Linked DNA regions of Homo sapiens: region 2 is linked to region 1. The links come from fine-mapping of genetic effects on gene expression. Tissue or cell type: thyroid. Region 1 holds a variant in brackets; the other region holds the start of a gene. All regions are shown on one strand. Distances are from middle to middle.

Evidence for each region. PIP is the estimated chance that this variant, and not a neighbour inherited with it, causes the effect.
Region 2: MYEF2 starts here. The variant in region 1 is fine-mapped to the expression of MYEF2 in thyroid (GTEx, PIP above 0.99). The same link has a PIP of 0.9 or more in skeletal muscle.

Annotation. Positions count from the first base shown.
Region 1 is chr15:47,935,000-47,943,109 of GRCh38, forward strand. The region is part of intron 1 of LOC124900354 (a long non-coding RNA gene); the gene reads left to right. Among named protein-coding and RNA genes, the nearest start is that of LINC01491, 93 kb to the left of the region's middle. The variant A/G (reference allele first, on the strand shown) is at 3,821.
Region 2 is chr15:48,173,391-48,181,500 of GRCh38, forward strand. MYEF2 (myelin expression factor 2) reads right to left here and starts at 4,905. Exons shown (of 17, transcript NM_016132.5): 1 at 4,687-4,905. The coding sequence starts at 4,847. It also overlaps a transcript of CTXN2 not described here. RefSeq lists silencers at 4,247-4,416, 4,447-4,876, 5,047-5,146 and an enhancer at 4,849-5,500.

The DNA of each region.
Region 1 (8,110 bases):
CTGTGAGGTTTCTGGCTTGGGCAGTGATTAGAGTGGCATGTCCATGGACTGAGACGGGTTTGGTGAAAATGCACACGGGAACTGATGAGTTCAATGGAGATCAGTTGATTGCAGGTGTCTAGGAGATGGGCAGATGAATTGGGTTCAAACTGGAAGAGAGGGCTAAGAGTGTACATACCAGTTGGAGACTTATGAGTACATTGCTGAGAGATACATGAAGGGAATAGAAAAGATCAGCTAGGAGGGCCTTTCAGCCTTACGTTAGGCAGTGTCTTATATTTTAAAATTACTTCTCTCCATCTCTTCTATGAATTAAAACTCAATCCTGCCCCGCCACACTCTTAAGAAGAAAGCAGATGCTATGTTGGAGCTAACTAAAGGAAAAATGACTGATTGCTAGGTTGGAGGATTAGTTTCCTGAAGAGTATTTGCTTTTGAAGTAAGGTCCAAAATCTCAAGGATGAGAGTGAAAAAGCTGCAAAAAGAATAATACAATGTACATACTACTTGAACACTACCACCATATAATTTTATAACACTCTTGGAAGGCAGGTGGAACTGATATTATTAGTTTTATTACATAGACAAGCAATCTAAGGCTTAGATTAATTTAATGACTTCTCTGAATTTACATATGACAGAGTTAGAATTGAACTGGTTTCTTAAATTCCAATCCAATGGGTTTAACTAGTTTCCCTTACACTAGTCTGCTTTCACAAACAATAAGTGGAAAGGTGAGTATTACTGATTGCTGTTGGGAGTTAAAAAGTGTCTTCCTTCCTTACTGTGGAGGGGGAAGAGGAAGGTCAGTGGAAGGTTTATGATGGCAAAAATGCCCAGGAAGTAACATTTTGGTAGTAAATCTCCAGATTTGCTTTGTTGTAGGATTTCAAAGATGAATGAATGCTTGTTTGCCCAAAGGTCTGCATCTCGACGGCTGGGCCGTGACAACTGTGGGGCTTCTCAGGTCACAACACCAAGGTGCCCACTCCCTCAAAGATTTGCCCTGTCTTTTAATTCTCAATTGAATTGTGATATATCTATGCATATTTCCAACCAAAATCACTCAAACTTCAAAGTTAAAATGAAAGGCTAGCACTTTTAGAGTTATGCATGTTGTAAATATTCCATGGTTTTCAGCCCCAGAGTAAGAAATATAATAGTTTTTCATTCTAATGCCCTATTATTTACCTGACCTGACTGGAAAAAGAGAAAGAGAAAGACCTTGACCTTTTGCCATTTTCTTAAAGCGTATTTTATAGTCTGCATAATAAGGCAGTGGCTGTTTCAGTGATATTTTGTCCTGAAATCGATGTTAGAGATCGCCTCACGAGTGATTTGTAATGGAATTTTTATTTGATTTGCATTTTTACATTTACAATGCAATTTTCTCTGACACGTTATTTTTCTTGTAAGTTGCACTAAAACACGATATAAATAAGTAGATTACATTGCTAAATAAAGGACAGGAAAAACATTAAAAAACTAGAATCAAATAATTAAACTTTTTTAAAGGACTGGGTCAATATATATATTTTATTATGTTTGGAAACTGAAAAAGTTAAACAGATATGAAATACTCATAATTTTGAAATGATTTTGCAAATTGGGAAGCTATAGTAATAGAATAAGTTATTTAAAAATGTGTATCAGTTTCACCATAACTTCACTGGCATTTATTCATTCAACAGATATTTATTAAGCACTTACTAAGTTTCTATCACTGATCTTGGTGCCCAGGATAAAGCATTCAATCACACAAAATAGTTTCTCCCTCATGGAACTTTTATAACCTGGTAGGGTAGAGTGAGTGTGTGTAAGTGTGTGTGTGTGTGTATGTGTGTGTGAGTGTGTGTGTGTGTACACACATATGTATGTGGAGATACTCATATATGGGCACATATACATATGTAAACATACACATTTACATCTATAGTTTACTAACTTACTAGTTTAATGGGGAGATTGCATCATTGCAGCTTCAGCTGACATTTGATTTCTAGTGAGCCTGGGCATTCTTTCATTATTTCTGTCAGTTCTACTTCTAGAAACATTTGCTGTTCATATCTGCTTCTTACTTTAGGCTTACTGATTTTCTTATCAGTTTGAATGATATATTTACATAATCATGCCACATTTACTGATAATGTTTTCCAGCCTTATATATTTATGTGAAACATCTGTCTATATGAATGTACACAAGTTATTATGTAATCAGTTTATCAATCTTTTCCTTTCTGATCTGTGTTCTCACTTCCAAACTTAGAAAGTCTCACCCAGCACCTCTTCATCCTCTCCTTCCACTAACCTGGGTCCAACAAAGGAACAGGAAGAGAAAAGATACAATTTTTTAAAACCCTATCTTTATGTAAACTAACTTACATGTATGTGCAATTTACCATATATTGTTTCATAGGTAAACATTGGATCGTAATTTTCTTGCTATCTTATAACCTGGGACTTTTATCTTTCTTAAAATAACAACATTTTCCCATGTTAATAGATACATATCTAGTTCTGTTTGCTAATTTTTGTACCCTCCAATTAACAAATATTTATATTTGTTTTTGAGGTTTTTTCACCATTATGACTATTGTTGAGATGGACATATTTGCTTACATATTTTTTCTCATATTCTTCCCTTAGGATATATTTCTATAAATACATATTTCTATAAATAGAATTTTGGAGTCAATTTTTTTTTTAAATACATATCGCCAAATAAAGTGGCATTATTAGAGGACAGCCAGGTTTCAGTTGGGGCTGGAAGTGAAAGGAATCTTCTGTGAGAACATTGGGAATGAGAGAGAAGAAAGGAAGGAAGAAAGGACGAGATGGAGGAAGGGAGGCAGGGAAGGAGGGAGCAAGGAAGGAAGCAAGGAAGGAAGAAAGAAAGGAGGAAGGAAAGAAGTGAGGGAGGGAGGGGAGGAAAAAAGGAGGGAAAGAGGGAGGAAGGAAGGAAGAAAAGAAAAAAGGAAGGAAGGAAAGAAGGAAAGAAGTGAGAGAGGGAAGAAGTGAAGGAGGGAGGGAAGGAAGAAAGGAGGGAAAGAAGAAGGGAGGAAAGAAGGAGGGAAGAAGGAAGGGAGGAACAGAGGAAGGGAGGGAGGAAGGAAAGAAACAAAGAAAGAAAAGTAAGAAAGAAAGGAAAAGAAAGAGAGAAAGAGAAAAAACAAAGGAAGAAGGAAAAGAAAGAAAAGTAAGGAAAGAAAGAAAGAGAGAAAGAGAAAAAAAGTAAGACGGAAAAGAAAGAAAGAAAGGAAGGAAGGAAGAAAGAAAGAGAAAAGAAAAGAAAAGAGCCAAAGTCACAGAGTGCCTAAGTTAGCTAGTATACTAATGGTGGGGAAAATGGGATGGAGGTGGGTTAAGGACAATAAGGGAATGATAATATGAAAGTTATTAGGTGGGGTGGGGAAGGGAATGAAGAATGAAAAGGAAGTGGCCACCGAGCTCATCTGTGAAGCAGGATGAAAACCTACCTCAGTGGTATCCAAGAAGAAAAGTCGAATTCAGGAAGCCAGGAAGGAGAAAAAACACTTTAAGAAACATAGAGTAATCAACTGTGGCAAACGAGATTGAGAGATTGTGTAATTCGAGTGCTGGAAATTGACCATTGGATTTAGCAAGATGTAAGTTGCCAGTGGTCTTGACAGAATCAATTTAGCATTGTGTTGGGACTGAAAGTCTGAAGAGGTAAGAGGAGGTAAGAACGAGTTGACAGTGAGTTAGACCAAATTTACTGGGGAGCTTTGCTTTAAAAGAGGGCATTTCTAATAATAGGGTGAGAGATGGAGAAAGACAAGATCTAGGCAACATTTTTAAG[A/G]TAGGAGATTCTGGGATTTGAGAGAATCCAGTAAAAAACATTATCTTTATATATGACCAAATTCTGAATCTACTGAGAGATAGGAAACAGGCAGTCAAAGATCAAAATATTACTTTCATTACTGACAAAAGTGTTGGTAGGTGGATTTAAGTCTATTAGCTAAAATACAATTAATAATATTGTACCGAGAATTAAGCAGACTTATCTGCCCAGTTCCTGGCAGCTCTGAACAATTGTGGGCCTTCCTCATGGGGGTCTACCCTTTTAAAACATAATTTTAAGGAAAGAAATAGAATGTGGGCTTTCTCCAGGCAGGGGGAGCCCAAGGAGGAAAGTGAAAGGAAGAAAGATCTGAGCTCAACTCCTCCATTTACCAATCACAACATTTATTTTTCCTGCCCTGGGAGAATGAATGAGGAATTCTTCCCTAAAAACGGATATTCTACCATGTCTTCTCATTGATGGAAATGACCAAATAGAAAGGGAGAAACTGATGATGCAGGAGTGAAGGGGAGAATTTCAAGACCAGAGTCCTTGAGTAGTTTACAGGAGATGAGATCCAGTACCCAAGCATTTGATAGGAACTAGGAAAGATTATCCCACTTACCAGGAATGAAGGCAGAAGATAGGGGTACAGATATATTTAGACTGACAAATTTTGTGTTGAAAGATACATTTTCTCTTCTGATTGTTCTTATTCTTCAGTGAAATAGGAAGTGAGATCATCTGCTCTGAGTGAGAAGGGGAGAACAGGTTTGAAGAGACAGAAGGTGTGAAATAATCTTCCCAAAGAGTGGAAAAGCAAATTGCCTAGAGAGACAAAGAAAATTGGTTGGGCAGTGCTGAGGGTTTGTTTGAGTTTTGTGGTTTAAAATTTCAAGTGAGTCCATGCAGCATAATAGTAGATTTTTTTTTTCTGGCCATGCTCTGCTCAGATGCAAGGAGAGGGGATGTGGAGAGTTTTAATTAACCAAGTTTGTGCTCTTGCAAAATGAATCCTATGGAAAGAAAAGGGGAAAGGTTGTTTAGGTTGTATGCGAGGGACTGATGGACCATAGAATTTAGTCTAGTTTGAAAAGATGGAAATGAGAAGAGAGGTTTGATGTAAAGGAAAGAGATGAATGGGCAACAAACTGATGGTCTCTGTGGGTCAAAGGGCTTTTGCGGTTTGAGTACTGGAATAAATATGTTAGAAAATTAAGAGTGATTGTCAAAGATTGGAATGCCTGAAATTGATATTTGGAAAAGTTAAAGGTAATAATGAGGTTCAGAGTTTAATTATGAGAGTGAGTGGAGTGAATGGCTGAGGTCGATTGGTTGAAAACATCAAAGTAAAAAGATCTGAGAGGAAAGTTGTTGAATGGAAGATCTAGATAATTGTTGAAGTAATCAAGAATGATTACTGGATAGTCTGCAGGCTGAGGTGGGAGGACAGCTTGAGGCCAAAAGTTGGAAGTTGGAGTGAGCTATGATTGTACCATGACAGAGAGAGACCCTATGTCAAAAGAAAAGGAAAGAGAAAAGAGAGAGAGAGAGAGAAGGAAGGAAGGAAGGAGAAGAAAGAGAAAAGAAAGAAAGAAAGAAAGAAAGAAAGAAAGAAAGAAAGAAAGAAAGAAAGAAAGAAAGAAAGGAAGGAGAGGAAAGAGAGGAAAGAAAGGAAAGAAAGAGAGAGAGAGATTAAGGAATACTGACAGAGATATACCATTAACTGAGTGCTAAAATCTTCAATAAGTTGTATGACTGAAAGGCCAGAAAATGATTGCAAGATGGAATAGTAGAAGGTAGTTTAGTCTAATGACATATGCCTCAAAAGATTTTTGAAATAAAAAAGAAAAGAAAAGACCTAGAAAAACAATGATGAATAAGAAGGGCTCCAATCACCATCTCTTTAGTTTATGATGTGGGCATTGTGTGGGGAAAAGCAGATACCCCTAAGAGGGCTTCAAGGAAAGTAGTGTCCTCCTTTTAGGAGACAATTAGGTTTTAGATAAATCATAAAATAAAGGAATGAGTGTTCAAAGGAGAGACTGAGGATGCGAGAGATTATTCCAAAGAAAGGACAGGCTAGGCATGGTGGCTCATGCCTGTAATACCAGCACTTTGGGAGACCAAGGCGGGTGGATCACCTGAGGTCAGGAGTTCGAGACCAGCTTGGCCAACATGATGAAACCCTGTCTCTACTAAAAATACAAAAATTAGCCAGGTATGGTGGCTGGTGCCTGTAATCCCAGCTACTCGGGAGGCTGAGGCAGGAGAATAACTTGAACCTGGGAGGCGGAGGTTGCAGTGAGCCAAGATCGCACCATTGCACTCTAGCCTGGGTGACAAGAGCAAAACTCCATCTCAAAAACAAAAAAGAAAGAAAGAAAGAGAAAGAGAGAAAGGAAAGGAAGGAAAGGAAGGAAAGAAAGGAAAGAAGGGAAGAATGGAAGAAGGAAAGGAAGGAAGGAAGGGAGAAAGAAAGAGAGAGAGAGAGAAAAAGGTGGAAGGATTTAGATGATTAGAGAATATAGATCTTTATATATGGAGATATTTCCGCATGTTCTTTGATGATGTGGGTTCTCAAATTTGTGAAAGAGATATACTTTTGGTACTAAGGTATATGAGGCATGATGGCATTTATTCCTGATGATTTCTTAGAGAAAAGAGAGACATCTCTTTCATTTACAACCATTTTTGATTACAATAGAGGAGAAGTGGGCAGCGTCTAATAGTGAATGGTGATCTTACCACAGTCTTATAGAAATCTGGGAAGTTCCTCAAATTCAGCTGTGGGTAGTATTACAGTACATTGAGCTACCCAGTTTACTCATCTCTTTCCAGAATTTTCTTTGACATTCTGGTCCGTTTAGTCTATTGGATACAATGTAATACTACGTTGCAAGGTTTCCCAAAACACGTTGTTGATCTTGACTAATTCTTATGATTGATTTGGAGCATAGTAGAAAAATATTGGAATCTTCCTCTTAATTCCACTAAAAGGTAAATTCTCCCCCTCTTCTGAATTTCCCATAAGCCTTTACCTAAATCTCTCATATAACATTTTTATTGTAATTATTTTTATGAGTATCATATATCTATGACTTACACAACTTTCTATTACACTACAATGCCCAACACTGTACCTTACACGTAGAGGGTCTTTAATAAGTATATGTGGAATGAATGAATTTTAAAAGCAATGAACAAGATGGAAGTCAGACTGTATTCTCAAATTATTCTGCTTCTCACTATGTATGTGACCTTGAGCAAGATATTCAGCTTCTCTTATTTACATCTGTAGGGTGGGAATAATAACTATCCTGTTTATCTCACAGGCTGCTGAAGTTGTGAGAAGTGTGAGAGCTAGAGGCAACATTTGCAAATGCTTTGAACACTGATTGCAAATAAGCTAACTCAACACTCAAATACAAAAAAAAATTATCATCTATTACAAGACAATTTGATAACTTGGAGGAAGCCCTCCATTACATATACAACAATTATTTTTGGCTTAGACATATCTGGAAAGAAAATGTCTAGATAGGACTCATATGATAATTAGAGTCTCTCATTCTGCCATCCATAGAACAGAAGTACGGCTGAAGGCAGCAGCTATGAACTGACTAGCCTCGACTCCAAATTCAACAAAAATTTTCTATGGCTTCATATCATAACCAAAATCCCAGCATTTTTAATTTATTCCTTGGAACTAAACATTGTCTTTATTCTTTGAGTTCTAGTTCAAACAAAATAGAGGAATGGTACAAATCCCAGCTTTGTGATTAGCTGGGCCTATGACTTTCACAAAGCTTCCTAATTTGTACAATAGGTACAATATTATCATCTTCCCTTTAAAGTTATCATGAGGACAAAATAAGATAATGTAATGATACCTGTCTCATGCCAGTCCCTCAATAAATGTTAGAGATTCTTTATCACAAAGTCTCTAATAACAGCGAAGATGGTAGATGAAATGGAAAACAAAGTTATCACACAAAGAACCAAAAATTTGAAAGACAGCTTAGAAAGAGGTTAATAAAATAACCAAACCTATGGGAAAATCAGTCAAGAGAAAAATCAAGGAAGAACACACAGAAAATGCTAGAAATGAAAAAGCGCTCTAACTGCAGATATAGCATAGATTAAAATTTAATAAGGGAGTATAGTTAGTACTTAATGGCAGTAAAAAATTATGTTACCAAGTTTATAAGAATAGATATTAATACATTTCTAGAAAAAAATTATAAATTTCCAGGTTTATAAGTAACAAAGTTGGAATATTCCTATAACCATAATTAGGTAACCATA
Region 2 (8,110 bases), 240 kb after region 1:
ACTCAACAGTGAAAATTTGAAGGTTTTACCTCTAAGAGCAGGAAAAAGAGAAGATGCCCATGCTCACCACTTCTATTCAACATTGTACTGAAGGTCACAGCCAGAGCAATTAGGCAAATAAAAGACATAAAAGGCAACCAAATTGGAGAGAAAGAAGTAAAATTAACTCTGTTTGCAGAAGATGTGATCTTATATAGAAAATTATTCAGAGAAAATTTTAAAGACAACACCAAAAAAACTATTAGAACAAATTCAGTAAAGTTATAGAATACAAAGTCAACATTCAAAAATCCACTGCATATCTACACACTAATAATAATGAACTATCCAAAAAATTAAGAACATAATCTCATTTAAAATAGCATCAGAAAGAATAAAATACCTAGAAATAAATTTAACCAAGAAAGCTAAAGAGCTATACACTGAAAAACGATCAAACAATGATAAAAGAAATTGAAAATAATACAAATGAAAGATATTCCATGTTCACAGATGAGAGGAATTAATATTGTCAAAATGTCCTTCCTACCCAAAATGACCTATAAATTCAATGTGATCTCTATCAAAATTCTAACAGCATTTTTCACAGAAACGGAAAAATTCCTGAAATCCGTATGAACCATAAAAGATCTCAAATGGCTAAAGCAAGCTTAAACAAGAAGAAAAAACTAAAAGTACCACACTACCTGATTCAAGTTATATTACAAATCTATAGTAATCAAAACAATATGGTACTGGTACAAAAACAGACACACAGACCAATGGAGCATAACAAACACTCAAAAACACATCCCCAATATATGGTAAACTAATCCTTGACAAAGGCACCAAAAATATACAATGGTGAAAGGACAGTCTCTTCAAAAAATGGTATTGGGAAAACTAGATATCCACATACAAAACAAAATGAAAATGGATTAAAAACTTATAACACCTAAAACCATGGAACTCCTAGAAGAAAACACAAGAGAAAAGCTCCATGACCTTGGCCTTGGCAATGATTTTTTTTTTTTTTGATATGACACCAAAAGCACAGACAACACAAACAAAAGTAAACAACTGGGACTACATCAAAGTAAAAAGTTATTGCACAGCAAAGGAAACTCAACAAAATAAAAAGGCAACCTAAGAAATGAGAGATAAAATTTGCAAACCATATATCCAATAAGGGATTAATATCAAAAATGTATAAGGAACCCATACAACTCAATAGCAACCCAATTTAAAAAATGAGAAAAGGATCCAAACAGATAATTTTTCCAAAGAAGACATACCAACGGCCAAAAGGTATATGAAAAGGTGCTCAATATCACTGTTCATCAGGGAAATACAACTCAAAACCAGACTGCAATATCACTTCATACCTGTTAGGATGACTTATCGAAAAGTCAAAAGATAGCAACTGTTGCTGAGGACGTGGAGAAAGAACCTTTAGATACTGCTGGTGGGAATATACATTGGTACAGCCATTATGGAAAACAGCATCAAGGGTCCACAAAAAATTAAAAACAGAACTACCACATGATTCATCAATGCCACTTCTGGGTATATATCCAATGAAAATGAAATCACTATCTCAAGGAGATATCTGCACTCCCATGTTCGCTGCATCATCCACAATACCCAAGATATGGAAACAACGACTTAAGTGTCCATTGACAGATAAATGATTAAAGGAAACATGATATATATTATATTTTATGTTTACACAACACATCCACACTGGAATATTATTATTCAGCCTTACAAAAAGAACAAAATCTTGCCATTTGCAACAACAGAGATAAACCTAGAGGACATTGGGCTATGTGAAAAAAGCCAGACTCAGAAAGACAAATGCTACATGATCTCACTTACACACAGACTTTTAAAAAAGTCAAACTCAGAAGCAGAGAGTAGAAGGGTGTTTACCAGAGGTGGAGGGCAGCAGGGGATGGGGAAATGTTCTAAGGGCACAAACTTTCAGTTATAAGATGAGTAAGTTCTGTAGATCTAAGGTACAGTATAGTGACTATACTTAACATATTTACTGTATACTTGAAATTTGCTTAAAGAATAGATCTTAAGTATTTTCAACACCAAAAAATATGGTAGCTATGCGAGGTAACAGATACGTTAATTAGCGTGATTGTGGTAATCATTTCACAATTTATTTGTATACCAAACCATCACACTGTACACTTCAAAATATACAATTTTTGTCAATTTACCTCAATAAAGCTGGGGGAAACAGTTCTAGTCTTTATTCCTAATAAAAATCACTCAGCTAAAGAACACATTACCTTGCTCCAATGCTTAATATTTTATAGTACCCTAATATAACTCTCAATCTCTACCTACTCCAAAGTTATACTTAATTACACATGAATAATAAAGTTATAATAATACTGCTCTTTTCCCTCCTATTCATTTTTAAGAAAAGGAGAGCTAGTATACCATTTGGCGTTAAAGAAGAAGACTACAGTTGGAAAACGGATCTTTTCTAAAGGTGTGAATATGCAAACTAAATTCCCTGTATATGAGTTTCATAAGCATGAAAGTTCACTTCTGCATTTCTTCCACAAATATTTACTAGGCCTTAAGAATACAAAGAAGAATAAGACATAGTGGTCTCCCACCCTCAATAACTATGGATTAACCTCAGCAAATATTATTTCAATCCTGATGACAAGCAGTACTCTGTTCAATTCCAACCAATACATAATTTGGGGCAATATTATGGTAATTTTTATAATCAACAATGAATTATTTTTATTATTAAAAGTATATGGTAATCAACTCAAGGTTTATGTATTGGGGTTGTTATCCACTCCTACTAGTTCACGAAGTAAAAAAAAAAAAAAAAAAAAAAAGGACTAGGTCGCTAGTTATTCAGTTTGAATGACTCATGCTGGACCATCACAAATCTTCTTATGGAATAGACAGTAAGAGAAATCCCTGAGAGTAAATTGGACTCGATTCAACTTCTGGGAAAAAGAGAAAGGGAGAGGCGAATTATAAGCAATATGGAAATAATCTGTATTTACTAGTAATATTTCTTCATTTCTTCACCTTATATTTTTCTCTTCCTAAATTAGAAAAGGATTCTTTCTCCACCTTTCTCCTTTCTCTTTTCCTGTCTTGCTAAATCATGAAGAGACTTTAGAAGGGAATAGAAAATCTGATGGAGGTTTAGATACCAAACTTCCCCTATATCAAAACTAATCATACCCAAGTATAGGAGGGCTTCTCTCTGTAATTCAAGGCTGCACTTTTTGTTCAGGAGAAAAGGTGGCATGTATACTCGTGTTTAGATATGAATAGCACATATTTTTAAGTTTATCATTCCACCGGTTTTCATTTCTATTTTTAATGCCAAATTCCAGAAAGCCCACATTTTGGCAAGCATGGTAGAAAGCACTTCATTCCCTTTCTGGTTCCTCAATTACTGAGGTGCACCACTCTTCATCCAGGAATAAACTCCACTAAGTTCCAATCTCTTATACCTGCACCTCTATTCTCCTAGAAGATGCTGCCGATCCTGTTCAAACTCATTTGAGAGCAAGAGTGTCAAAGAGCTGGGGAGAGCTACCCCATCTTTTTTGCCACCAACTTTTACACAGACTGGTCCAGTTCTTACCATACAATTTCAAACATGCTTATACAAAGGTCAGAAAGACCTTTCCCTTGTCTATTTTACTGTGAGCATATATCTATTGCTTTCTGCTCTGAGGCATAACAGAGAAGGAAAAGGATGTTTTCACTTAATTATTAACATACTTTCAACTTCAGGTTTAAGGAGGTAGGCATATGAAAGTAAGCGCTTAACTTCATATCCTCCCACAGGACAGGAACAAAGGAGAGCATAACATTTCCCTAGAACCAGAAATTATTATGGATTGGGGTCAACTAAATTCTTTATAGGCACTGGTGACAGCTGCGACCTTAAAAGTCTTCCTTCATTTGGGAAAAAAAAAATCTTAACCATCTATTATACCAAACTTAAGATAATCATACACTGAGTTAAAAAAAAAAATACTCTCCACAGCTGACGCACATTACCCAGTGGGAAGGGAAGCCACGCACATCGCACATTTCCCTTTTTAAAGTACGTCTAGCCAATTCAAGAGTAACACAAAACATAGAGTCTAACAGCACATTATTAAACTTCCTCTCGGTATAAATCAGTTTAAAAATGAACATACACTTTAGAAAACAACAAAACACTAAACTTGTGAAGCTCAGAAAGAAGCCAGGAATATTCCTTTTAAATATGTTCTCGGTGGTTAAGAGGAAATGTCCGATGATGTCATCCCTAGATACTCCCTAGTGATGAACACTAACTACTGGTCCTTAAAGGGGGACCATTTTCCTGCAAACCGTGGCGGTCGCTGAGCTTTGCTCAAAGATTCTTTAACCAAAGTCAGGGAAGAGGGGTGTTCGCTGTCTCGGGCTAGAAATCAGGGAAGAGCGCTGGTCCCCGGGCCCCCAGCCCCGGCTCCCAGACCACAGGCGGCCAGGCCTGGGGCGGGCGGGGAAGGGCCTGGGAGCGGCCCAGCTGCACCTGCTCCTCAGGAAGCCGATGGCCCGGGGGCGGGCCGGGGTCTGGGGGTGGTTGTCCCCCATCGGGGCACAGCCCGGCCTCTAGCCGCCCGGTAGACTCCCCGCCCCCCACCTCGCCCCGGTTCCCGGAGGAAAAGACAATACATTTTAACGCCATTGGAGCTGCTGCTGTGCTGCGGCTGCTGCTTCTCCGCCTCCGCGGGGTGCGGCTCTCGCCGCGGCTCGCCCGGCGGCTCTGCGGGCTGCAGGTGCGGGCTGTCGCCACCAGTGGCCCCGGGCACCTCGGCCTTGTTGGCGTCCGCCATCCCGCCGCCGCTGCCTCCGCCTCGGCCGCCTGAGCTGAGGGGCTCCGAGCGCGACAATGGCGGCTGCCGGGGAAGCGGTAACGGATCCCGATTTGAAAAGGCCCCGAGCGCTCAGTAACCCGGATCTCGCGAGAACCGGTCGAGACTGGGTGACTGGGAGATGGTGTGTGCCGGGTGCGGGGGGTGGGAGTGCGGGGGGAGGGGAGCCATGGGAGCTGGGGTCAGGGCCGCTGTTGCTGCAGTCGGCCCTACACCTGCCTGGGAGGGCTGGACCAGTCCTGAAAGCCCCCGGTGGTGGTGCCATGTCTGCCCACCAGCCCGCCTGTCGCTTGGCACCAGTGGAGTCTTCGCTTGCAAAGCGGGATTAGACATCAAAGCCCTAACACCCAGACTGTTCAATTCATTCCAGGTAGGGGCAGTTAAAGAACACACCACTTTGCATCTTTAAAGACTTCTTGCAAGTCCTCAGACTGCCTTTAGAAATCCTTTGAATTAAGCAAATATAAGTCTCTTGCCATTTCAATGCCTAGGCACCCTTCGGACATTCCATAAATAGTTATTGATGACTGATTGCAATTCACCAAAAGGAATGACTTTGAATTTCTTTGAGAATTATTTGTTCTTAGGGGGTGAGGATTTCCCAGGAACTCAACTATCAGCTTAGTAAGAGAAGACTGCAGTTTTTCTCTGGACATCAATCAATATGGGGAATCCATAATTATAAAATATCGTCTACTAGATGGGCTAATAATGGACATTTGAGGTTTTGACTGTGTGTTTATTGTATACTGATGGAAATTCTAGTGAAGTAGTTAGTTATACGCTCTCAAATTTAATTGCCATATGGAGTTTTAAAATACAGTCGTAGATTTTTCCCCCTAAGTATGAAAAGGAAACCGTTAAATTTAATCAACTCCTAATTCTCGAGTACTATAATCTTTCACATTGACATAACCTTTTTCAGCTGAAAAGTTTAAATGCCTTCCCAAATTTTTTTTCCATGAAGAAGCAAACACGTACAGTTTAGTCACTTTGCAGAATATCATACACACATCAGTGGTAAAGTTATAGTTAGAAAGTAATACTCAAATAACATAATTTCATCTTCGGCTTTTCAATGTGTAGTTTCCTACCCTCTACCGAAAAATACCAAGTTCAGCTACTTCATCACACACACACATACACACACACACATACACAAACACACACACACATAATCAGAACATTTTAATGATAAGAATGCTATTGTAGTTGCTGTATAAATTGTTTCTCATTCAACTCTGAGACATAAGATTTATAATCGCAGAAAGGGCATTCAATTGTGACAGACAAAATCTGGGTTAGAACCCCAGCTCTGCCTCTTTTTGCCCATAACTCCCTGGGCAAGTCACCTCATTTCTCAATCTCTCTACAATAAATAGGGATAGCAATACCGACCTTACAGGATTGAGGTGAGGATTAAAAGAAAGCACTTTATGTAGGAAAAAGTGCTATATGAACATAATGTAATATTACAATTCTCTATCTCCCTAAGCTCAGCAGGGTTTTAGTCAAAGACAAGCCAAGTGATTTTTCCCACAGCACTAAATTATAAGTACTTTCAAAATAGTCATCATTCTGTTATTCTTTTGCTATTGTTGAATTCAGTATGAAAATTGAACCCCACCATCACCAGTACAATATATTCTTGCAAAAATCCTTTAATCAACTCAATGCAAGATTTTTTTAAGAGGCCTTTATGCTTCAAACAGAGTAGTAGGTACATGAGGAATACAAAAATGAGTACAGCCCTGTTGGGAGAGGGCTAATGTAAAAAGTACTATTTAAGTGCTATAATACAAATAAAAGCAAAGTATAATTAAAAAATTATTTACAAAAACAGGAGACTGGCCCACATGCCTTAGTTTGCCAATTAAAATATTCCATTAAAATATTTATCTTGATTACTGAGTTTTAACTTTTGTACCCAAGACAAATGCCTCACCCGCTGTAGCTTGGTTCTAGTCCTGATAAAGAGCAGAGGTTAATTCCTACTGAGAGATTGGTGAGGGCCTTATAAAAGAGCTGGATCTTAAAAGACAAAGAATTAAGGCAACTTCTGAAGGGAAGAGAATGATTAATCTTTACCATTCCATCTGACTGCTCAATAGATTGATCTTTCCTTCCTTTCTTGCTATTAATTGCAAAAGATAAAGAAAAAACTATTAATATTCTGTTGCTGAATTCCATTTCTGTATTTGCTTGTCTTCCTCTCTACTGTTTTGGTTTGTTTTGTTTTGTTTTGTCTTTTTTGAGATGGAGTCTCGCTCTGTCACCCAGGCTGGAGTGCAGTGGCGCCATCTCTGCTCACTGCAAGCTCCACCTCCCGCGTTCATACCGTTCTCCTGCCTCAGCCTCCTGAGTAGCTGGGACTACAGGCGCCCGCCAGCAGGCCCGGCTAATTTTTTGTATTTTTAGTAGAAACAGGTTTCACCGTGTTAGCCAGGATGGTCTCCATCTCCTGACCCTGTGATCTGCCTGCCTTGGCCTCCCAAATTGCTGGGATTACAGGCGTGAGCCAGAGCGCCCGGCCTTGGTTTTTTGTTTTTTGTTTGTTTGTTTTTTAGTGCATGTAGGTACATTGAAAAATTCTTAAGTGATGCTCAAATTCTTATTTTCCCATGATTCACATTGCAAAAGCATTATCCTTTGCAATTGCACAAAATATATTACTGGTACAACTTCACATAATCACTTAGTTTTCTTTCTTACAAATTAGAATGCATGTTTATGTGTGTGTACCTGGCGGGATAGGGGAAAAGCTATTACACGTATCTAGAAATCTAATCCTAGAAATCACAAAATATTTTCAATTAATACCTTAATATATGTATCACTTAGGAATTGTGTTCATCTGCTAATAACAATAACTAGAAATAATAGTGTCTTAAGCAAGATATACATTTTTACTCTCTTAAGTAAAATAAATGCAGAAGGAGCATCCCAGAGGATATATAGTAGCTTCACAGTCATCGTGAAGTCAGGTTCCTGCTACCTTAATCTTTCGCCATCCTAGTGTGAGGCTTCCATTCTTAAGGTTGCCCTATGACCCAAGATGGCTGCTGGAGATCGAGGCACCTTGTCGGCATTGTAGGTCAGAAGGAGTCCAGAAAAAAAGGGACCTATCCAGAAGTCTCACACAACACTTCCGCTTATGGGCAAGAACTTAGTCACATGACACACTCATCTGTGGGGGAGGTTGGCAAATAATTTGGGGGCTGGGC